2 separate regions of the Homo sapiens genome follow, and region 1 is linked to region 2. Evidence: fine-mapped expression QTL. A gene starts in region 2. The other region holds a variant in brackets. All regions are shown on one strand. Distances are between the middles of the regions.

What was found. PIP is the estimated chance that this variant, and not a neighbour inherited with it, causes the effect.
Region 1: its variant is fine-mapped to the expression of MYO1A in whole blood (TOPMed, PIP above 0.99).

Annotation. Positions count from the first base shown.
Region 1 is chr12:57,003,525-57,016,073 of GRCh38, forward strand. It overlaps ZBTB39 (zinc finger and BTB domain containing 39), which reads right to left and starts at 3,022. Exons shown (of 2, transcript NM_014830.3): 1 at 2,881-3,022; 2 at 1-1,437. The coding sequence starts at 1,393. TAC3 (tachykinin precursor 3) reads right to left here. Exons shown (of 7, transcript NM_013251.4): 2 at 12,160-12,278; 3 at 10,054-10,147; 4 at 9,835-9,864; 5 at 9,298-9,351; 6 at 8,854-8,928; 7 at 6,476-6,764. The coding sequence starts at 12,273. The coding sequence ends at 8,855. RefSeq lists silencers at 2,691-2,840, 2,861-3,220. The variant G/A (reference allele first, on the strand shown) is at 6,032.
Region 2 is chr12:57,043,686-57,056,234 of GRCh38, forward strand. It overlaps MYO1A (myosin IA), which reads right to left and starts at 6,444. Exons shown (of 28, transcript NM_005379.4): 1 at 6,202-6,444; 2 at 4,525-4,658; 3 at 4,304-4,419; 4 at 3,942-4,036; 5 at 3,618-3,722; 6 at 3,376-3,422; 7 at 3,178-3,241; 8 at 2,867-2,965; 9 at 421-524; 10 at 171-318. The coding sequence starts at 4,638. It overlaps NEMP1 (nuclear envelope integral membrane protein 1), which reads right to left. Exons shown (of 9, transcript NM_001130963.2): 9 at 11,958-12,549. RefSeq lists an enhancer at 3,166-4,365.

The DNA of each region.
Region 1 (12,549 bases), 40 kb before region 2:
GGAAATCTTTGGCCAATACTTTCCCACAGGCAGCGCATTTCAGCTCTGGGGAGGCTGCCCCTGAAAAGAGACCCAGCTTCCCTGGCAGGGGATCGTTGGGGTGGACAATGATGTTGTTCTCAAATATTCCATCCCGTCGGTGAAGGGTCAGCTGCCACTGGGTAAAGAACTTAGTTTCACACATGTCGCAGGAGAAAAGGAAAATACCAATGTGGGACAGGACATGAGTTACCCGGGAGTTTCGGTCCTGGAAGTGGGTCTCGCAGACCTTGCAGTTGCCCGTCAGCAGGTCCACATGGTCCCGAGCATGCTGCCGGATCAGTTGAATGTTGGGCTCTAGAACTTTCTTGCACACCTGGCAGGGCATGGCCTTATTCTCCCGATTGTCATTCTCTCCAAAAGCCAACTCATCCTCACTGTCATCACTCAGCTCAATCACCTCCTCAGTTGTGCCTATATCCTCAGCAGGGTCTTCAAACTGCAAGTCATCATCCCCCAGGTCCTCGAGCTGGAGCTCATCCATCTGCCCAAAGCCAGGATCTTTGGAGTGCTCACTATTGCTCAGACAGGAGTTGGTCCCAGTGGTAATGTCTACTGCATTGTCAGGGGTGAGGAAGCTGTTTTTACTGAAGTCTCCATTGCTTTGAACTTTGTATGGCTGGCAGGAGCTCGTGCTGGTCTGGATGCCCGTGCTGACAGTGCCTAGGAGTGGCTGGGTCATCATGCTAGGAATGGACGTGAAGGGAGCAGGGGTGTCATGGTCTTCTGTCTTTGGCGGTGGTGGGGGCGGTTGCGGCAGATGCAGGCTATGGTTAGCGTCACTGGCAACATTCTTCTCTTCCTCTTTATAGCTCCCTCCAGCATCACTGGGCAACACATAGTTTCTATCAGCACCAAGGTAGTCCCCACCACCTCGGAGTTCTCCAAGGGGATGGGCAGGTTCTGCCGAAGGACAACTCAGGGTACCAGAGTGGCTCTCACTGGTGCTGGTCAGGGGCTTGGCCCTGGCAGTGCTCTCCAGATCAGGAAAGGTAGAGTGACAGGCCTGGAGGAGGTCCTCCATACCCAGACGCTCAGCTACCTCGTAGATGACCCCAACATTGATCAGGTCTGTGAAGAGTTCTGAAGTGTAGACAAAGCTCAGAACCTTCTCAAAGTTGGCAGGGGTGATGAAGTCCACCACATAGGTCCTGGCAGCATCAAGCCCAGTATTCAGGAAGAGGTTCTGGAAGTAGCCAGCTGCACAGGCCAGCACAGCCTTGTGGGCCGGGAAGGAGCGGCTCCCCACCACAATGGTGACGTCGCACATGGTCTCTGAGAGCCGGCACTTGTTGAGTTCCTTCAGCAGGTTGTTGGGGTGGTTGGTGCTTTGCAGTTTGATCCTCATGCCCATCTTAGCAGCTCCTATGAAATTACCTCCTTATCAGCACAGTTAATCTGTGGATAGCAAGAGAAAAAGATGGATGGCCAAACACATCCGTGCAAAAGAGGGGCTATGCAGGAGAAAATACCATCACTCTGAATGCTTCCAAGCCCCAGGTAGGGATCAGGAGTAAACTGGCATGGAGAGTTCCTCCATTATGACAAGGCAATGACATCTCCCCCTGTATATACTCAAAGAGTTATGACAAAAACCAAAACGACTGATGACAATCTGATAGCTTGGTTTTAAGCTGGTGCCTAGAGACGAACCAGAGGCATTCCCTTGGACACAATCTTATACTTCATTACCAGAGCCACTGGATCAAATTTTTCTCCTATTAATTTCCTCCCAAATACAAGCTTTCCTAATTCATTGAGCATATTCTTTTCCCTCATGATGCCAAATACCATGCACATGCTTGAACACAACTATCAAAGCTCCACTAGCTACTGAGGAACATATAAGGTGGTTCCGTTTTTTAGCTTTGTCATTGCTGTGTCTTCAACCTCTCAATAATCTCCAAATAAATCTCACGTTCTTGAATCCCCATCTCTCTCTGCCTATACTACATACCCGCTCTCTGGCCTTTCGATAACCCAGAGCCCCTCCAGATATTGCTTTATCACAGTCCCTGTATTCTGTGAAGTTAAAACACTCAGAATGCACAGTAAGAAAAGTAGAACACAACTGTGGTAGTATTTAATATTACTTTAATATGTTGTATTCTTTTTCGCCACCCTTTTCGGGGTTTATATTTTGTTGTCCCTGCACTAACAGATTTACTTGATGCCGCAAGAAAGACTTCTAATTATACAGGTAAGACTCCTAGAGGCTTGTTCACTACCACTTTCTGCCCTTTCTGACTCCTGCACGACTAAGGAAGAAGAGCTACTTGCATCCCTGTTCAGTCTCACAACTCTGCCCAACACAGCCCCTTTCTCCATCTCTCCAGATTCTAACAACTCCCAACTTTTTCTGGGGCCCAGGAAGCGTCTAAGTATTGTGGGGTACCGGCCAAGCATCTCCCGGGCCCTGGTGGCCACCCCTGAACGATGGGCGGGTCGGAGCACTGGGCAGCCAGAGGAGAGGGTGGGAGAGGGGGAAGCTGGGAACTTCCAAGGACACCCCAACAATCCCCGGGCGCCGCGGTCTCCCCTCCGGAGTCGCATCTGGGAGGGAAGGGCGCTGCATCGGCTGGGGCGCTCCCTCTGGAGGCAACGAGCGCCTCAGTCCCTCCACAAACAGCGCGGGGCTCACCCGGGTGAGCCTGTTGGGGGCATGGGGCTGAATAAGGGGCCAAGCGAGGGGCGGCGGGGCCGGCCGGGGTCGGCGCGCGGGCGGGGAGGATGGGTCCGGCCGAAGGGAGCGGGCAAGAGGGACCCCAGCAAGAGCGAGATAAATGCCGGGCCGAAGGTCGGGCTTCGGCCAGGGGCAGCCCTCGGCCTGGCCGCGCTTACCCGGCTCTGCGGCGCCCCGAGCACCATCGCCGCCGCCGCTTCACACAAAGGCCCCGGCCCGCCGTGCCCGGCCCGACGAGGAGGCGGCGCCGCCGGCCGCGGCCAGACTCTCCATCCGCCGCGCGGCTCGCCGCGACGGCCCGGGCCGCCCCCGCCGCCCGGCCCGCAGCGCCCCCCGCCGTCCCGGAGGAGGCAGCGCCCCCCGCCGCCCGGCCGCAGCGCCCCCCGCCGCCCGGGAGGAGGCAGCGCCCCCCCACGGCGGGGCCGGGTCCAGGACCTGCGCGAGGGGTGCAGGGGCTTCCAAGTCCCCAGGCTGGCTTTTTCTAAGCGCCCATCCACTGTGCGCGGGACTTGGTGCCTGAAGAGTGAAAAACCCTATCCAAACTCTCTTCACCTCCCCTGTTCTACGCTCACAGTTCCAAAAGCTTCTCCTCAGAACATCTACTATGGGCATTTTACAAAATGTTGTAAGATTGTTTGATTACTATATATCTCCTCCACTAGGCTGTGGGCTTCCTGAAGGCAGGGATCTGTGGCTTTGCACACGGCCGCAGGTCCACACTGACCCTTACCACACTTCCTGGCACAATAAGTGCTTAATACATTAAGCCTGCTTGAATGAATGAAGGAGCACTTGAGGGCTAGACCGCTACTACTGGACCCTTCTGATAATCCACTGCTGTCCCTCCTTCCATCTAGGTGGCCAAATGAAGAAAGTCACCGGATCTCACTGTACTTTGGCACCCCAGGCCTGCTTCCTGAAGCCTGCCCTCCCCAACTCTGTGTAGAACTCGATCACTCTTCCTCCCCACCCTTCTCCCAAATCATCTTTTCAAATGCTTCTGCCCAAGAATTGTCATCAAACGAAAACCACCTACACTGCCTGCCCCACCCACCACCACCAAAGACATTAGAAGTCTTCGTCATGTCGCCCTCCCTCCCTCAGTACAGAGGAAGCTCTTAGGCTCCAAGACCCTTCAGTTTCATCCTCTCTCCCATCCCATCCCAGTCACTGCCTGAAAATAGCTTGCAGCCAAGGACAAACTCCCAGGACAGGCGCATGGTAGGATTCAGTAATTCCTTGATGGATAAGTGGAAAGGAAGGGACACACTGAATGTTGCCAACAGATCTAAGCCAGTTTGGCCATTCAGCAATTGTCCATTCTCTTGATGAATTTGGGAGATTGTGTGTCCTCCTTTCCACAACCTCATTAACTGGTGGCAGACTATACTGAAAGCAAGCACTATACCAAATGCTGCCAAACATGTAACATTTGTTAGCCAGGAGATACAAAAACAGCCATAGAACTGTTCTTATAGTTTGGGGATGAGGCATCTCACTTTACCATCTAGTGAAAGGGTCACTTAGAGGTTGACACAATGTTTCAGTGGCAGGCCCAGCTCTCACAGTTGTGCAAGGTGACTGAGTCTCCCTAAAGTGGAATATCACACAGCCAGCAGGTCCAGACCTCCAGCATGACTCTGGAGACAGAGGGCTGCTGGGCTTGCAAGGGCCTGGGCCTATACAGTCTTTCTAACCAACTGCCCCAGCCATCTCTGGAGGGTTGACCCCAATAAACTTCACATGAAAACAAATCATCCAAAAGACGCAGGTGAAAGTATATACCACTTATACTGAAGTCTTTTTAAAGTAAATCACCATATAGTCACAATAACAAACATATACAAAGTTAAATGGAGAAGAAAGGGCCAGGAATTTAGTCAAGGTCTTGTGGACCAGATCTCTTTAGGCATCAACTGTTTTACAACAGGAAAGGGAGGGTCAGGATCCCTTCACACATTCTTCAAGTACAAACACAGGAATCTAACTTAACATTTGTCTTCATTTTTTTCTGGAGTCCCCAGTACTGCAATTTTTGTCAGTCCCACTAGAGAGCAATCTTTCTGCACTTAATGTTCCTACTTGCAAAGCAATTGTCTCATCTCAGCCTATAAGCCTAACTCCCACCAAGTCTGAGCAGAACCAACTCTTGTAGCTTTCATGACCCAGAGAAAGCCCCTAGACTCTGCAAAAGTGTCCCCAGTTTTAAGCCCTATAGATAGATAATTTTGAAAAGTCAAAGAGATGACTCACTGGAAAAAGGGTCTAGGCTCTGGGGTGGGGGCATTCTTTGACCTCTGGCTATAAAGCTGACATAAGTAATACTAGGGTGAGTATTCCCTCCTTTCCCCGCCCCCCACTATACAGCTGTCATTCCAAAGTGGCCCCAAGTCAGGCTGTAGGAAGATAGAATTTTCACTAGAATGAAAGGACTGCAGGAAGTGGCCTCTGGCTCTGTGGCCCTGTCCTTACACTGCCTTGGGAAATCTATGTGTTGATGTTTTATCAGTGCAATTCAGGGGCATAACAAAGGCCCCTGTACCACGCTAAGATAAGGAGCCTGAGGATTTCACTGGCTGTTCCATTAGGGTACAGAACCCCCCTTAGGATGGCGGGTGATAGTTGACATCATAGATTAGTAAAAGACATCCATACCCATGCATACCACATGTAAGTGCCTTACACATTCTGGGGACTGTTAAGTCAGAGCTGCAGGAGCTGGTAACAGGCACTTTAGAGAGGAGTGGGAGATAAATGTTTTCCCTTTATAATAACTAAGGCAGCCAGTTAACGGTGAAGATATCTGCTCCTCTCTTTCTTGGCCTCGGTAGTAACTTCCCTGTCCACATCCCATCCTAGCTGGATCAAGTTCTGTTTGCTTGTCCACAGCCCTGCTAAACTGTAAACTCTGTGTATGAGTCATCATTTCATCCCCAGGATCTGTCACAGAACCCAGGCTCAGCATTTGGAGACAAAAAAATTGTATAGGGTCATAGATTTGTCCTCCTCTGTGGCTGGGTCTCCGGACAGCCTTGATCCCCACCTCCTTCTCTAATTAAGTAGGGTCAGATTCAGGAATGAATATCTCCCAGACCCATCCTAGTAATACAAGTCATTCTGAATATTTTTTTTCTTTTTCTTTTTCTTTTTTTATTGTTTTTTTTGTTTGTTTGTTTTGTTTTGAGACGGAGTTTTTTGCTCTTGTTGCCCAGGCTGGAGTGCAGTGGCGTGATCTCGGCTCACTGCAACCCCTGCCTCCTGGGTTCAAACGATTCTCCTGCCTCAGCCTCCCAAGTAGCTGGAATTACA[G/A]GCATGCGCCACCATGCCTGGCTAATTTTTGTATTTTTAGTAGAGAAGGGGTTTCACCATGTTGGTCAGGCTGGTCTCGACCTCCTGACCTCGTGATCCACCCGCCTCGGCCTCCCAAAGTGCTGGGATTACAGGCGTGAGCCACCGGGCCCGGCCTGTTTTTTCTTTATCTAAAACTGGTCTGTAAAAATCTTTGTGTGTTAGAAACCATCTTCCAAATTCGTGTATTTATTTTAATCACTAAATAAATCTGATACTCATCGTGCAAAGCACTGTGTAAGGCACTGTTCAGGAAATAGATATATACAAAAAGATATGTAAAGTTATTTACATTTAAATATGAAGTGTGTGTATCATAAGTATGTGTGTATTTACCATGTAGCTGGAGGAGTCAAGGAACAGAAAAACCCACCAACCAAACAAGTAAACACACACACCACATCATTCATATGCAAAAATCCTTTATTGTTGAGGAATAGAGAGAGACATTATATTTTTAATGTAGGACACTACAGGAACTCTAGGGTATTCTACAGTCAATGCCCATTGGGGTTGGGGATATTCACTATGCAGTTTCCACACCAGGGTCAGGTAGAAAAGATGGAGAAGGAGTCAAAGCACAAGAATGTTACAAGAACAGGGAAGAGAAAGGGTAACAGGAGCGTGCGCACCTGGGGATTGGGACAGGGAAAGAGGTCTTCCTAATGCAGTCCAGGAGTCCGGAAGTGGAGTACTGAGGACAAAAAACAAAACAAAACAAAAAAAAACACTGAAATCACATCTTATATCCTGTAAAAAAGTCCCACTGAAAACCTGCTGTGGCAGCAGGAGAGAAGGGGAGAGGCGTCTGTGAGAGAGGAAAGAACAAGTCTTGACCCTCAGCCTGCCCTCCAGGCTTTGGGCCTGAGGATGGAACTCTCCTAGCCGCAGGTACTTGCACCTTCCCAGCTGCCATATTTACATTACTCTACACACCTGTGTGCATGGCCAGTGGGGCCCATGTGGACCAAAGATGTAGGAACCAAGTTCATGCCATCCTAGCACCACCATGAGCCAGACACACACACAGCCCTGCCCAAGGTGCCCTACTATGAATGCTCCCCCTGCCTTATCCAGTTCCTCCTCTTCCCAGAAACCTCCCAGAGGAAGCACAGGCCCAGGGATTACTTACAGTTTCACATGAATGAAATCAGATGACACAATGATCTGTGTTGATCCATCTCATCTAATCTTTAAATGCCAGCTCCCAGAAACCTTATGTCCTATTCTGCCTGACACCTAACAGGTTGGGAATGCTCCCTCAATGGTAAGATTATGAAAGCTGCAATTATGGGTCCCTCTGAAAGAGCCTGGATGCACAAACAAGCATTAAAAGTAGATTTCCACAATGCACTTGTTTTTGCCATTTGTATAAAATACTATAGCAAAATTGCACTGTAATTATCTTTATGGCCAGTGCATAACGCTGGAGCAGAGTATGTCATCCAGATATAGCTGCTCGTATAATTATCTGGCCGTCGGCAGGACTGAAATAACCATCTAATGAGAGCAAAATGATACAGTAACTACCATGTAATCAGCAAGTTACAGTTATTATAGCTCTTTGTGCCCTCTCACCCAACACTAAATGGGGGGCCAGACTCAGTCTCTGGTCCCAGGAATTCATGCACAGGCAGCATCATCAAGCACCAGCTCCTTGGGTCTTGGGCGTGCCACCTTGAGACCAGTGAGTATGGGTAACAGGGACACAGAGAGAAAAGCAGGAGGCTCTCCATGATTACGAGCCTTCCCAATCTCTCTCCCTCTCCTTTTCACTCCCTCCACCCCAATTCTTTGGAAGCTAGTGAAAAGAAAGCCATTGGTGGAGCTGCTCTTGCTGTGTGTGGGAAGACAGTGTCAAGGCGGAAGGTTCGTGTTTTGACTAGACACTTCCCTGGGGGACTCTTACACTCGCATACCAAGTGAGGAATTTGTCAGCCCACTCAGGCCTGGGGTCCAGACAGAGCCAGTCAGGGGAAACATTAGGACATCCCCCATACCTCCCAAACTGGGACAATTATCATAAAATTGGCACACAGCACTGTGCACCCGGCACTGTTCTGAACACTTTACCTATACTCAATCCTCAAAACCACAACCCTGTGAGATACTATTATCACTTTCATTTTTCAGATGAGGAAACTGAAGCACAGGAGGATATGTACCTTGGCCAAAAAGATACAGATAGAGTGGCAGATCCAGGATTCACATTCAGGCCATTGTTCTTATTCATTATGCTAAAGAGAGATTCAGATATGGTTTCCTGCTAATCCCCATTAGATTTCAGAGTTCCTTGCATTTCTTCCTGAATCATCCTTGTGTATGACTACCTTCTGGGCCCCGTAACCCAGGATTCTGAGTGATTTGAAAGGCTCAGCCTGCCTGGGAGGCAAATGCTTGCCTGTGAATTGGTTGTGGTATTTGTAATTATCAGATAATAATTTCTCCATCTTTTTGCATAGATTACAAAAGAATGAAGTCCAAACAACAGAAATTGCCCATCGGGGAAGCCCCTCTCTCCTCATCTCCCAACACTCACTCCTGCTCAATAGTCAGCTGCCGTCCATGATCCAGAGGAAAGAGATGAAAGACGGGGGATGTGTACAAACACACGTGCCTCTAAGTGTCTTTGTGTTTGGCCGACAGTGTGCTGGGCATTGGCAGTGTATTTCAGGGCAAATCTATGAGCTTTAATACCTGTAGCATGGGAGGAAATGCACAGCTGGCAACCCCCACAGCCCCCTCCCCAGTCCCCTCTCCCCTCTCTAATGAACAATCCTTACCCTATTCTGCTCTCGGGGGATACTTGAGGATGCCAAAGCTGGGGACGTTCTCTTGATTCACATCCGTAGGAGAGTCTAGGGTAAAGCGAACAGTGTAAGTAAGAGGGATCTTTCTGAATGTGAACTACACCCTGATCCAACAGCAAAGGGCTGGCTATGACGGGCAGTGTTCAAAGACAGAGTTGGGAGACTGGGGTGGAAGCAGAGTCTCCCTATCCTTCCTCCCAGCTGCAACAGGACTACCTTATAAAGGTCTCTGCTCCTCTGTTCCCAGGGAAGACTTTCCTGTGGATCCAAGCTGATTGGGATGAAGGGGCCGAGGAACCCTCACTGAAGGTAAGAAAGGTCCTGTCTTTCCCTCTGGTGACAAATATGAGGCACGTGACTTCTGTCATACTCTGCCAGTACCCTAAGCCCTTCCACTGTACCTCCACACACTCCTACCTGGCTGGACGCTCCTCTTGCCCATAAGTCCCACAAAGAAGTCATGCATGTCACCTGCAGAAAAGGGCCAACATTGTCAGCAGTGATGATGAGAAAGTGAAGCATCTCCCCAGACATGGGTCAACACTTCTGAGACTGGGTTTCTGGTCTCTGTTCCTTTTTCTTGTCAAAGCATGACTCCTCACAGTTAGCAAGTGCCTCCCCTAAACCCACTCTCTCTGCTCACCTTTCCTTCCTCCACATTTCAAGAATTTTCTGCTCTAGCAGGTGCCTGATTTGGAATTTTCAGGGCCACGAAGAGATCCCCTTGTTTTCCAAGGACCAGCCAGCAGAGGGAGAGCCCACCATGCCCCTCACACCAGCTTCCTCCTAGTTCTGGATGGCCTCTCCCTTTCAGGAAAGGTTGGCTGAGCAGTGGGAGCTGGCATATTGTTTGTACCAGGTGAGAAGGGGCTGGACAAAATGGCCCCTGGGCCCAATGCCCCACAGAGCTCTGGGCAAGTGGCAAGAGATAGGGAGGGAGAAGAGGGTACTTACGTTTCTCGGGAGATGTTGATTCCTTAGGATCTGTGAAACCAAGAACAGATGTCTAAATGGGGAGTGAAGTTGGAAAGTGATGAGAGCGGGGTTCAGATCACAACCCTCACCGATTCACTAAGCTATCCCCCATCTCTCTCCCATCTGAAAGGATCTCCCAGGCCTCTTATCTTCAGAATCCTGCCCCTCATTCCCCTCTCCCCTAGGGCCGCCTCCTACCTGTGCTAGCCTGGCTCAGGGCTTTGAGCAATCCCTCCAGAGATGAGTGGCTTTTGAAGAGTCTCTGGAGCAGCTGGTAGAGATCTGGATCCCTCTAGGGAAGAAACAAAGAGGGGTGAGGCAGGAGGCTCCCACCCGGATCCACTCATCCTTTTCCCACAAGAAACAGCCTCTTCCTGAGCCCATCCTGAATCCGACACCCTATTTCTTTCAGAGTTTCCTCTGGTTCACACTGGACGAGAAGTAGGTGCTCCAGGAGTGACCTGTGGACCAACAGCAACACCAGCACTACACAGAGCCTGTTAGAAATGCAGACTCTTGTTCCTACCCCAGACCTCCTGAGACAGAATCTGCATTTTAAGCAGCCCCCCAGGTGATTCACATGCATGGTGAGATTGGAGGCACACATCTGCACCTGTGATTCCCCCACTCTGCACGATGTCCATGGATGTTTCTCTCCCTGTTTTCCACCACCTCTTTCTCTATTCTCCATGGCTTTCCGCCTCTAGTTTTCTCTCCCTCTCCCTTTTGGCCCTAGGTCTAGAATTCCAGGAAGGCAACATGCTCAGAAGGCACGTCTTCTTCTCTCCACAACTGAATCCCAAGTTCTAGAGCTGTTGCCCAGCACGGGCTCTTGATTGTCCCTGTGATTTTTTTTTTTTTTTTAGCAACTTGCGTACAGCAGGGTGGTGGGCACACACCACACAGCCAGTTAATTGCAGCTGCAGAGAGACAATAACAATGATCATGGCTGGAGATTTTCATCTCAAATCTCAAGTCTCAGCAGCGCCTCTCTTTCCAGAACCCAGGCATCCTTCGGCTGTTGTGCACACACAGAAGTGCATTTACACAGAACACACCCCCACACATACCAACCCAGTTGCCTAGGCACACCTATGTACTACCCTCTTCCTGCCCCAATTTCCCTCATCCTCACAGACTCTCAAGGAGAAGGGGTAGGATGGCAATCCCTCTCATTCATTGACCAAGAGGGGCAGAGGGGACATCTCATTGGCCAAGGTCTTGAAACAAGTTTGTCTCAGAAGAACTCAGATACTCTAACTATCCTGGGCTGGAACTTTGTGGCTCCAAACGGTGTCCAGCCCATACTTGGCACTCCCCTGGGTGTTTTTTTTTTTAACGGTTCTGGCCTTTTGGATATGGCACAACTGCTGCCACCTGCAAGGCTGCCCTGGTGATAACTCCCTTGGCCCAGCATGTGGTGTTCAGGCAGCCACTTTTCCCAAATTGTTGAATACTCTGCCCACCTCCTATAATGAGATGCTGAACAGATTTGAGCTGAAGAGGCAGTTAAACTTCACACATTGAATTTGTAATAAGTCCCACCCGCAATCATCTTAAAAGCATTTGTACCGATGTAATTGCTGTCATTTCAAAACCTTGAAAAGACTTCCTCCCTATCCTCCCCCTGTACCCCTACCCTGACAATTCCTATTCTTTTTCGTAAAGGAACTGTGGAAATCGAGGCTCAATCTGGTTTTTTTGCTGTTGTTGTTTTCCTATCCTGACTAAGCAGAGGATAGAGGCGGGCAAGGGAGAAAAGAGAAGAAGGAAGGGGTTGGGATCTTAGAAGCACCTGAGGTTACTGGGGGTGGATGAGCAAAAGATAAGGGAATTTATTTGCATTTTGAAAATAAAACAATACACATAACTGATAGGTAAAATAGCACACAAATAACCATTTGGGAAAGAAATTCTGACTGTTTCATACCATCCAGGAAATAGAAGAGATCTGTCCCTTGCAAAGGGACCTGAGGTAGACTATAGAGAGCCTTAGACCACCCTAGCTCACCCCTCACAGTACCATCCAATCACCAAGTCTCCCATCAATCAACCCACCAAACAACATATTTGTAGGGCACCTTTTATGTACAAGGTGTCAAAGACATGCAGAGATACAGAGACACAAACACACCTGGAGACAGTGGGAACATGAAAGGACCAGAGAAACAAAGAAATCCAAAGGGAGGCAAAATGCCCTCTGACGGACAACCCCCCCACCCCAGTTTCCTCACTACAGCTGTCCAGACAGGCAGAGTCCCAAGTTCCCGTGATGTCCCCAGTACTCTGCCAGGGGAGACTTACCTTGCTGCGGCCCCCGCCAGGAACCACCTCCTCCTGTGGCTCCTTACAGACAGCCCCAAAGCTCTGAGCTAGGCTGAAGGCCAGGATGGCTGTGAATAGCAGCATGATCCTCATGGTGCCTGGGAGAGCAAAGGGACAGGACTCAGGTAAAGGAGAGAAGAGGAAGATACAGCATGGGTGAAGACACAAGAGACATTCATTACCAGCAGCTTGGCTTGACCCTGCTTCCCCAGCCCCCAACTCCACTGTCCAAGCCCTGGTCTGGAGAGAGGGTGGAAAGTATTTCTGAGAAGGGGGTACAGCCCTTGGGCTTAGTTTCCCTGCTACCCCATCAGATATCTCCCCAGGAGATGTGCAATGCTATAGTGGTGCCAGGAGGACTCTAGCTCC
Region 2 (12,549 bases):
ATATGCTTCATCGGGAGTTCTCAGTGAGTCTGTTTAGGGGAGAACTCAGGAGTGGGCTGAGTGGGACTGCATCAGGGTGAGATCAATTATGCTAGAGATGGTAGAAGGACACGACTTGTAGTAGGAAATTCAGGGTCTGGGTAGGAGCTCCAGCAGGCTGGGATGCAGACCTCTCCCATCACGGATGCCACTTGCTGGTATCCCACTGGCCTGGAACTCATCAGCCACCAACACGTTCCCCAGCTTTAGCACCATGGATGTCACCTCTAGCACTTGTCGAATCTCCTCCTCCGAGAACCCAATCACTGCCATTGCACTCTTAGGCAGAAAGCAGAAATCAAAAGCTGAACTGTTGGTGCCAGTCCAATGCGAATAGAGGATGACCTAAGGGCCCAAGCCTGCCTCACCCTGGGCACCCACCTGTACAGCCCTGAAGCTGGAGGCGTCGTCCATGCCATCCACTCTGGATACTTCATGATTCAGATAGGCATAGCCAGTTGTATCCCGCTCAAGCTTCAGGGCCTCTGGGAGGGCCAGTGTTGGGGAAGATGGTTAGTACCCAGGCTCTCTGGAGCCCTCCAGCCTTGACACCTCACAGCCCTTGCCCTAATGGATTCATTCACTTATCCAAAGGAGTCATTTTTGTTTTGGGTTCTTCCCCTGCCTCCTTTGTTTTGGGATCATTAATTCCTGTGATGATAGACTAATTTTTGTTGTTGTTGAGACAGGGTCTCACTCTGTCACACAGGCTGGAGGGCAGTGGTGCGATCTCAGCTCACTGCAAGCACCACCTCCCAGGTTCAAGTGATTCTCATGCCTCAGCCTCCTGTGTAGCTGGGACTATGGGTGCATGCCACCACGCCTGGCTAATTTTGGTATTTTTAGTAGAGATGGGGTTTCTCTATGTTGGCCAGGCTGGTCTTGACTCCTGCACTCAAGCAATCCACCCGCCTCGGCCTCTCAAAGTGCTGGGATTACAGGCATGAGTCACTCGGCCTAACAGACTAAATTTTTAAGTATACTTTTAAGTAGTGTTTAGGGTTTTGATGCTCATATTGATTGGGTTTTCCCCCAACTTTTATGAAACAAAACCCTCATTTTACTCTTCTCCCTACCCTCAGGGTTCTAAACAATAAAAATAAACAAGCAACCCTTCCATCCTACGCAGGTGCCTCTGGACGGTGAAGGTAAGGGGAGAAGGGTAAGCGCATATCTCCTGCCTGCCCCCAGCCTCAACTCTTGGCGTGGGTTGCTCATTCATTGTTTGAACACCAAACACCAATAAAGTGGCAGGTAGCATGTTCCCTGACCCTGACACCTCTTCTGAAAAGTTTTCTCTGATGCTGAGGGCCTGAGCCAAATGGCTGTCTTGCATTCCCCACTGGTGAATCTATATCCCAGCCCATATCATATGGGCTAGGTTTTGTTTTTTTCTGTCTCTCCCATAAATGAGCAACTTGTGGGTTGGGACTGTGTTTCTCATCTCCATATTCTGTGTGCCTTTCTGGCATGCAGGAAATTTTCTCTTTTTAATAAATGAATCAAGTGAATGATCAAAGCTGTTTCCCTAGGATGGGAGGGATTCGGTTAATCATGGAGTTTGAGGGATGTCAATTATCTGGTATGCAAATGATCTGAGAATCAGGGAGTATCCCTCAAACTATAGTCTAATGGCAGCTCCCCCAGCACACAAAGTTTGAAACAAGGGCCTGCTAAGGAGGGTATCTGGAGGGAGAATGAGTCAGAATGTCTGGGGATGATGATACCTGGGAGACCTCATCTAGAGTTGATTTAAACCAATAGATGACAGACCAACCAGAACAAGACACTAATGCCCATGATGCAGACAAGTTGAACATAACCAAAACTATTAAGCCAGGAAAGAGCATGAGATCTGCAGGGGTTCCTGAAGATCACAGAGATCTCCAAGAGTGGAAAAGGAGATAGCACAGGTCTATCATAGAATCACCAGAAACCAAAGAGACATTCTTAGGGGCCAGACACCCACGGTGCTCACAGCCAGAGAGGAGATTGGGAGGCAAACTCCAGTAGGGCTTAAAGTCCACCAGACACTCCAGTGATGCCCACCCAGAGCCACTTCAGGCCAGTCCAGCATCCAGGCTGTGATGGACCCTTCCCCAGGCCAAGCCAAGGGGCTCTAGGTCTTCTGCTCTTATAGCCAGCTGCACAGGCCTGATGGCCCCGATCACACAATATTACAATGGATCTGCTCACACACCTCTTATCCCTAGAAGACTATAAGTTCTTCGAGGACAGGGTCATGTCTTACTCAACTCTGTATCCCTAGAGGCTAGCATAATATTTGATCATAGGTGTTCAAGAGATGTTGAATGAATGAATAAATGAATGAGTGAATGAATGAATGAAAAGAAAATCAGGAACAGGGTCCTAGGTAAGGCAGATGTAGACCCAGGACAGCTTCAACTAGAGTTCACTGAAAGTTCCTGAACACTTACAACATTCTGCCTGCTTCCCTGCTTTAATTAAATCCCCTTAAGTTGAAGGTAGGAAGGAAAGTAGATGGATATAAGTGTTTTATATTTGAAGCCAGCTCAGGGAAAGCAGAACCCAGGCAGGAAAGAGGAACGAGAACAGTGAAGAGGCAAGAAGGCATATCCCTGGCAATAAAACCCCAGAAAAGGAAGAGAACACAGGGGTAAAGGAATTTGTTCCCAACAATGAGTGGGTGAGGCTGAGAATGGGAAATGCAGCAAGGAAAATCTGGGAGGCTCAAGGGAAGAGGGCTGTAGGGGCCCAGAGGGAACAGGGGTTCTGGGACTGAATGGAGGTTGGGGACTTTGCCATGTGTCACTCATGAGGACACTTTCCCCATGCAGGCACATACTCAGCAGCTGTTCATCTGCTCCAGCCAGCAGCTGATAGAAGATGTGGAAGTTCCTTTCTCCTTTGAGCTGCTTCACTAATCGGGATTTCTCAAGCAGATCTGGCAGAGAATTAGAAAAATAATATCCTGAGGGCCTGGGAGATGCCGTAGCTTCTCCAGCCCTACTGGAGAATGCCCCCATCGCCGGCATTCCTAGTGGTTGGGAAGTCTCCTTGACGTCTAACATTCTGCCTTTCTACAGGAACAGATTAGCAGAAAGGGCCATGGGAGGCAGGTGGAAGACAGGTGAGTGGAATTGGGGAGACACGTACAGTTTGTGATGACACCACCGAGGGGGGATCCCTTGAAGTCAAATTCAATATCCATGTATTTTCCCTTCAGAGAGAGACCAGAGAGAGAGACTTAGCTTCTTCCTCTTCTCACCACCCTGCCTGGAAGGGGTCTGTGCCACATTCCTCCCTCTTAAGCCCCCACATCCTCTCTTCCCAGGTGGGGAGACATTTACTCACAAATCGGGAGGAATTGTTGTTGCGAATGGTCTTGGCATTGCCAAAAGCTACAGAGATGAGGAGGGGAGAAGTGAAACTCTAGAGAAGGGAAAGGAGGAAGGGCTTCCAGTCCTCATGACAATCTCAGATTTTTCTGGGTCGAACAAGAGAGGTGATTTTGCAGCACTGGGGAAGAGGGTCTAGGGCTCAGTGATTCTGGGGGTTAGATGGAGGGTGGAGAGGGCAGAGAGCAGAATTCTCACCCTCCAGCACTGGGTTAGACTGTAGCAGCTGCTCCTTCACAGAGTTCACCTGCTCTCCTTTCCCACAGACGGCAGCCACATAAGACATCACCAGCTTGCTGGCCTCTGTGCAGGCAAAACGCTCTCATGGGTCCCCACCCAGGACTAGCCCATCCCCCCACCTCCTTAACTTGCTTCACCCCAGTGCCTCACCACCCCTTGGAGTCAGAAAAAGTGGAAAGGAAGTTCTGTGGGGTGGAGGGTCAGGTCTAGGTCTGGCTTGCAAAGAGACAAGGAAGCAGTTCCAGAGGTGACTCCATGTGTTCCCCCAGCCAGGGGCCTCACCAGTCTTCCCTGATCCACTCTCGCCTGTGATGAGGATACACTGGTCTCGGTCCCTGTCCCTCAGTGACTGGTACGCCACATTTGCCAATGCGTAGCTTGTGGGGAGGAAGTGGGCAATGACTATTGTGAAACCAGTTCAAGACACCATCTTTCACTCAATCTCCAGCACGCAGGTTCATCCACTCTCTCTACTTGGAGCAGACTGGGCAAGATGTGACAGGCCTTGGAAGGGGCCTCCAGAAGGCCAGGGAAGGAAGGGGCAGCTGGAGAAGCCCCTTCAGGGGAAGGGACAAAGGAAATTAGGATGACTCAGTGTCAAGAAGCTGGGGCCCTGTCAGCCTTCCCTTGGTCCCCCTACTCACATATGGGGCTTCAGCTCATAGAAAGTATAGTCTTGATATTTGGCAATGAACTCTGGCCCATAGATGGGAAGCTGTTGATAGGGATTCACTGAGATCACCACATTCCCAATGTAGGTCTGGAGCCAGGAAGAAGGTGAAGGGAATGAGCTTGAGGGTGAGGTGGGAGCCTGTGACCTCTCCAGCCACATATCCACAGCCAGAGGCACCCATATGACACTCACATAAATCTCCTTGTTTTCATAGCGAAGCTGAAGATTCTTGAGCAGTGACTCCTCCACCAAGGGTTCCAGGAGGACAAGATCCTCCACCCCCACAGAACCTTCCAGGAGAGGCATGTCCAGAGGGGCCACTGATCCTGGGAATAAGAGGCACAGTTTGCTGATGTCCACTCAGCTTTAGGGGCCAGTAACTGTTTGAGGGGAGGATGGCAGAAGGACCAAAAGAGCCTTCCTCTCTTCCTACCCTGGCCCTAAAGAGAGCCCCCAACCTAGGAGAGGCCTCTGGACCAGCCCAAGCTAATAGGGAGGCTGAAACTCTCAGCAGGAGGTGGGGGAGATCCTCTGCTGCCTGGGTTACAGTTGGTGGGGGTGGGGCAGGGGTGGAACAGGAACACCTTCCTCTGACCACCAGGGGAAGGCAGGCACCCAGTGGGCTACAACTGGGGGAGCAGAGTTGTGACTGAAGGAGAGAGGGCTGAGGAGGAAAGTGTAAGCAAAGACTTGTGCTGCCGCCAGGTACAGAAAGCCCTCTCTCTCCTACAATGGGCCCTGGCCAGGGTCCAGACTCCCCATCTACCCCCAGTGCTTCTTCTCAACACCTTACCTCTCACAGCCCCTATTAAAGACACCCAACCTACCCATAACCATTTCAGAAGTTCTTCCAAAGGTCTCTCCTTCCCTGTCATTGCTACAGTGAGCTTCATTTTTAAAATGGGAACTTGACAAGGCAGAATTATAGAGGATAGAGGCAGGATTCCTCCATAAGAGATTGGAATTTCCCAAAGAAAATGAAAGTGGGGTTTGCTTCCCCAACAAACAGGCAGTTGTCAGGACCTCTGGATGTGCTACATGTCTGTCTCTATTTTTCCATCTCTAGCTTTTACACCCACTCCTGTAAACTTCTGGCATGGACTTTGCCCCAGAGGGACACACCTAGCTTCTTGCGGGAGTGGGCAAGGAGGAGCACAGTTGGAACTACAGGGAGGGTGGTGGGGCTTGGCCCCCATGCAGTAGGCACATGGCAGGTGTTCCCTAAGGAGGAAACCTGGCCCTCCTCAGTCTTTCCTGTGAGACTGAGTAGGCAGAGTGGCCAGGCACAGGACAGGATTATTAGTACAATGGTCAAGGCCACTCCTGAACAGGAATGAAAGAGACACATCCTCCTATGCTATTGCATCTCTGAACCCGGGTGGAGGAGCGGAGGAAGGAGGAACGGAAGTGGGGCAAGAAGGGGCACAGGCTTCCTTCTCCCTTCACTTGGCTTTCCCCAAGCTCTAGGAAAAGAGAGCACTTGTCACTTACCAGAAGGACACAACTGAGGAAGCAATAAGAATATCAATAATAGCAGTCTCTAGGAATCATGCAGCGTTTACCACGAACTGGGCAGGGCTCTAAGCACTGTACATACACTAATTCATTTAGTGCTTACAATATCCCCATGAAGTAGATACTATTTTTGTATTTTCTAGATTTTACAAAAAGCTAAGTCTTTTAACTAACTTGGCAGGGAAGGGTGAGAAGCAGAAGGTGGGTTGGGAGCAGTCATCTTCTTTGGATTTGGATTTGAAGGGAGTGGGAATGTGACTGGTTGAGGGTGGGGAAGGGAAAAAGGCAAGAGGCCCCAGATGGGGCGCCCCAAGGTGTTAAAGAGAAGCAGTGACAGGTCAAGGCAGGACTCACCCAACACTGGAACTAGGGTATAACTTCACTGTCCTTGGAGAATGGTGGATGAAATCTCAATTTGACAGGAATGGGGCATAAGAGTCCTGGCCCCAGGATGGAGAGGTGGCTTAATGGGAGCTGTCCATGGTGCAAGGAAGCTGGGAAAAAGGCTGCCCTCCTCTTGCCAGTGTCCACTCTTCTGATTTTCCCTTTTGCTGCCTCTTCCAGCCCAGGCTCCCTGTGCCAGTCAAACCAGGAGAGGCCGGAGATGGCTGATCAGCACAAAGTCCAGACTGTTCCTGCTGAGGGTGTGGCTCACTTAACCCTTCACAGGCCTGAAGCCCCAGAGGGAGACACTCAAGCTCCCTCTAGGTAGGAAAGGGTATCTGGCTGGCGTTAGCTGAGAGGCTTAACTAAAGGAGGGTTCTTGCTCCATTGTCTCCCAAATTTGGAAATGAAAGCTGGAAGAATGGAATTTATAGCCAAGGAAAATATTTCCCAAAGAGAAGTCAGGAATTTTGTCAAGGACAGGTAGGGCCAAGTGCGGTTGCTCATGCCTATACTCCCAGCACTTTGGGAGGCCAAGGCGGGAGGATCACTTGAGCCCAGGAGTTCGAGACCAGCCTAGGCAACATGGCGAGACACGTCTTTACAAAGAGTGTCTTCCTAGCAAAAAAACAGTACCTCCCTCATACCTACTCTTCCTATCTTATCGGGAGTCAGGGGATGTTAATGAGATTACTTGGAGAGCTAAGCAGACAAAATCCCCAAATTCTTCTCCACTTCCCTTCCCCCATGAATCAGACCCTATCATAGAGACCCAAAGATTAAAGTGATTAGTAATAATACCTCACATGTGTATAGATGTCCCAGTTTCATTGAACTCCCCCTTGCATTGCCTCACTGAATAGCACCACCCCGAGGAAGGCAATACAGATACTCCATTAAAATGGAAAACTAGGAACAAACACCAGACTCAGAGAGGTTACACAATGTGCCCACAGTTCCATGCTAGTGCATGGCAGAACCAGGAACAGAATGCAGCTCCCTAAGTTTGCCAAAAGTTGCAGCCCAAGTTCTGAAGTTTCTAATTTTAATTCGTCAGCACTAGGATACTGAGTAAGACCCTGAGCTAATGTAATAGCTCCCTCTGATAGATAAGAAGTACCCCTTCATCCAGCCAGGAAAATTCCTAAAAACAGCAAGCCCCCTCTGCCTACCATCCTCTCTCCCAGGCATGCAGAAAGAACAAATTAGGTAATTATAGACACTTAACTGAAGAGAGACTTGATTCTCCAACTCTCAGCTATGGCTGCTTGGTGCAAGGTCCAAACTCTATGGCTCTCACAGAAGCACTCTGCGTAAGCCTGGCACATCAGCAGTTCTATTATCAACCTGCCTTTACATAATTTATTGATCTACTACATATATTTGAAGGTGGAGGGGGGCAAGGAAAAGAGAGAAAGCTGAGTGGAAGTGACATCAAAACATAATGCTATGTGTAGGTGGAGCAGTATCCATGTCCTAGAGGCAGAAGTGACAAATATCACCTATTTACCAGTGGAGGAAACAGATCTAGAGTGAGAAAACCACTTTTCCAGGGTCACACCACTGCAAACCTGGCAGAGCTGGCACCAAAACCCAAGTCTCATGTTCTCTAGGCCAGGAATCTGCAGCCATCTGGGGTTTACCTGCATGTCCACCCATTCAGTCAACTGAGTGCCTACTATGTGCTTACTCACGAGAAAAGTGACTCTAAAATGAGATGGCACTCTCAGGTGTAAGAACAATGACATGAACATCACAGCTAGGGCAACCAACTGTACTGATCCGCCTGTGGGACACAGTGGGGTTCTCTGGACATGGGAATTTGAGTGTTAAAACTAGGAAAGTCCCAGGCAAACTGGAGCCAGTGGGTCAGCCTAAATTAACAAGATATGAAATACACATCCAAGTCAGCTGGGATTTTCTAATCTCCTGCTTTCTAGGCAAAACTGAAGCAACCAGAGCGTATTAGTCTTCCTCTACTTTGACTCCTAAATCACCTTCCTTTTTCCCCCATTAACATTTCTAGACCATGGAAGGGGCAAGAGGGAACTTTTTGGGGTTACAGAAATGGTCTATATCCTGATTGTGGTAGTGGTTATACAACTGTCTCCATTTGTCAAAACTCAGCAAATTTGTACACTTAAAACTGGCAAATTATATTGTTATGTAAATCGTACTTCAATAAAACTGGCAAAAAAAAAAAAAAAATTCTAGGCTGGGTGCAGTGGCTCACGCCTGTAATCCTAACACTTTGAGAGGCTGAGCCGGGCCGATCACTTCAGGCCAAGAGCTCGAAACCAGCCTGGCCAACATGGTGAAACCCCGTCTCTACTAAAAATACAAAAAAGATTAGCCCGGGCATGGTGGCGGGTGCCTGTAATCCCAGCTACTCAGGAGACTAAGGCAGGAGAATCGCTTGAACCCGGGTGGTGGAGGTTGCAGTGAGCCGAGATCACGCCATTGTACTCCAGCCTGGACAACAAGAGCAAAACTCCGTCTCAAAAAAAAAAAAAAAAAATTCCAAATCATTTGGTGCTGATTTCTGACAAATTGGGAAGGCAGCAATCTGATTAAGCCAATTCACTCATTAATCTTCCCACAGGTACTAACTTTTAAAAAGATGTTACACAATAAAAAGGCAGCTATTTTCAGATATGGTGAGGAAGACATTTGGTGGTAGAGGGTCTTCTCGGCTCTCATAAACTATCTGGTACTAATAACATTTATCATACTTAGACTGGACTAAGATGTGCCAGGCAACAAGCTAAGTGCTTTACATCATTGCTATTCAAAATGAGGTCCACAGACCAGCACCATCTGATCAACTGGGAGCTTACCAGAAATCCAGAATCTTTGGAAGGCTGAATTGGGAGGTCTGCTTGAACCCAAGAGTTCCAGGCTGCACTGAGCTATGAGTGTGCCACTGCACTCCACTCCAGCCTGGGCAACAGAGCAAGATCCTGTCTCTTAAAAAAAAAAATAAATGCAGATTCTTGGGCACCACTGAAGATTTAGTGAATCAGAATCTGCATTTTAACAAGATCCCCAGGTGATTCCCATGCACTTTAAAGTTGGAGAACTGCTTTACCCAACTTACCATGTTTTTTTTTAAATTATACTTTAAATTCTAGGGTACATGTGCACAACATGCAGGTTACATATGTATACATGTGCCATGTTGGTGTGGTGCACCCAGTAACTCATCATTTAACATTAGGTATATCTCCAAATGCTATCCCTCCCCCCTCCCCACATCCCACAACAGGCCCCAATGTGTGATGTTCCCCTTCCTGTGTCCATGTGTTCTCATTGTTCAATTCCCACCTATCAGTGAGAACATGCAGTGTTTGGTTTTTTGTCCTTGCGATCGTTCGCTGAGAATGATGGTTTCCAGCTTCATCCATGTCCCTACAAAGGACATAAACTCATCATTTTTTATGGCTGCATAGTATTCCATGGTGTATATGTGTCACATTTTCTTAATCCAGTCTATCATTGTTGGACATTTGGGTTGATTCCAAGTCTTTGCTATTGTGTATAGTGCCGCAATAAACATACATGTGCATGTGTCTTTATAGCAGCATGATTTATAATCCTTTGGGTATATACCCAGTAATGGGATTGCTGGGTCAAATGGTATTTCTAGTTCTAGATCCCTGAGGAATCGCCACACTGACTTCCACAATGGTTGAACTAGTTTACAGTCCCATCAACGGTGTAAAAGTGTTCCTATTTCTCCACATCCTCTCCAGCACCTGCTGTTTCCTGACTTGTTAATGATCGCCATTCTAACTGGTGTGAGATGGTATCTCATTGTGGTTTTGATTTGTATTTCTCTGGTGGCCAGGAGGGATTAAAGACTTAAATGTTAGACCTAAAACCATAAAAACCCTAGAATAAAACCTAGGCAATACCATTCAGGACATAGGCATGGGCAAGGACTTCATGTCTAAAACACCAAAAGCAATGGCAACAAAAGCCAAAATTGACAAATGGGATCGAATAAAACTAAAGAGCTTCTGCACAGCAAAAGAAACTACCATCCGAGTGAACAGGCAACCTACAGAATGGGAGAAAATTCTTGCAATCTACTCATCTGACAAAGGGCTAATATCCAGAATCTACAATGAACTCCAACAAATTAACAAGAAAAAAACAAACAACCCCATCAAAGAGTGGGCGAAAGATATGAACAGACACTTCTCAAAAGAAGACATTTATGCAGCCAAAACTTACACATGAAAAAATGCTCATCACTTACCATGTTTTTTTATCCTCACTATAACTCTATGATGTACATCTAGCAATTATGCTTTAAGTTTTTATTAGTTCAACCATTAACGATCACCTATGTCTCTTATTTACCTAGTGGTAGTTATGGAAGGAAGAGGAGAAAAGATGTCATTAGTGTACATTAACATAAATTTACTTATGTTCTACATCCTGTTTTCTTCCTACTTTGCCAACTTTCTGTCTTAAAAAAAATAGACAATGGATTTCCATGTAGTCCAAATAACTGAGATGAACTTTGGGAGGCTGAGGTGGGCAGATCACCTGAGGTCAGGAGTTCAAGACCAGCATGGCCAACATGGTGAAACCCCATCTCTACTTAAAAAATACAAAAAGCCGGGCATGGTGGTGGGGGCCTGTAATCCCAGCTACTAAGGAGACTGAGGCAGGGAGAATTGCTTTAACCCAGGAGGCGGAGGTTACAGTGAGCCAAGATCCCGCCTCTGCACTCCAGCCTGGGTGACAGAGTGAAACTCCATCTCAAAAAACAAAACAAAACAAATAATAATGATAATAAATAGGCAGGGTGCAGTGGCTCATGCCTGTAATCCCAGCACTTTGGGAGGCCAAGGCGGGCAGATCATTTGAGATCAGGAGTTCAAGACCAGCCTGGCCAACGTGGTGAAACCCCATCTCTACTAAAACTACAAAAATTATCAGGGTGTGGTGGCAGGTGCCTGTAATCCAGCTACTCGGGAGGCTGAGGCAGGAGAATCACTTGAACCCGGGAAGCAGAGATTGCAGTGAGCCGAGATCATGCCACTGCACTCCAGCCTGGGCAACAGGAAGAGACTGTCTCAAATAATAATAATAATAATTAATTAATGAGATGAAAAAACATAGGTACAGAGTTAATATGAATATTACAAAGGATTCCCAGAGCAAAGAAGGTAGCCAATACATAAAATGAAAGGTACCAGACTCCTATGGTAGAAGCTGGGCCTAGACATAATTTAAGTTTTTATTCAATACACATAAGGCTCACTACAGCCCTACTCTCTCTTCCACCCTATACAGAGCTCTTGGTAGGGATCCCATAGCTGGAGCCATAGGTCTTCTCCCCATCCCAATGGACAAACAAAAGAGATACTTTATGCCATAAAAAAAAAAAAAGAACTAAAATATAATCAGAGTAGTTCCTTGGGCCAAGAATAACCTGTATTTTGCTTTTCTATGAGACAGCATGGTAGTACAACCTGCTGCTCCTGCAAGAATACCCCTTAGAGATTTTGCATCCTGGGAAATCATCCAGTCCAAGGATGAAAGTAGACCAGTACAGACTCGGGACAGGAAGGGGTGGCTAAGAAAAAAAGGGAAATCAGTGGCATGCAAAACCATCTCATTAGAAAGATGAAACTGAGGAGTAAATTGCTGATTACCTGAAAACAAGAAATCCAAACAAGAAAATATTATGTTCATTAAGAAAGACCACAATATATCTATAAAACTTTTATTAAAATTGGAATTAGAAACTATACCAAAAACTTTAAAAATACATTAAGACATTGTTCTTTTTTCTTACAGAAAAGAGGGTGAAAATAAGACCCATGGCAAAGAGCCATCCCTGATAATTTTGTTCCTTTCAAACATTCATGAACATTTAAATAAAATTACAAATATTTAAATAACCCTAAGGTATTACCCACAGGCTAAAACTTGCCAGTAATTCCTTAGCCCTGCTATTTCAATATCAATTCCACAAACATGGAAAATTATGGTAACTGCAGGCTGTAACAGTTTCTAATATTCACATTATGAACTATTTGTTATGTTGTCATAAGAATGTGCTCATGCTATAGGCAAATTCAGAGGTGATTTCACCATTTTCAAATTATCATCAAGAGTGTGAAAGAGGAAGATGACACACACGTGGGATGGTGTGGAAATCCAAAGCCCCACATTTTGGGAGTCTGTGACCACTCCCATCTGCCACTAAAGCTACGAGTTGGTGTTGGCATGAATCTGCTTTGTTTATTCCCAGCAGGCTCTGGCTCGTGTCACATAAGGCACCAACATCCTTTTCAAGGT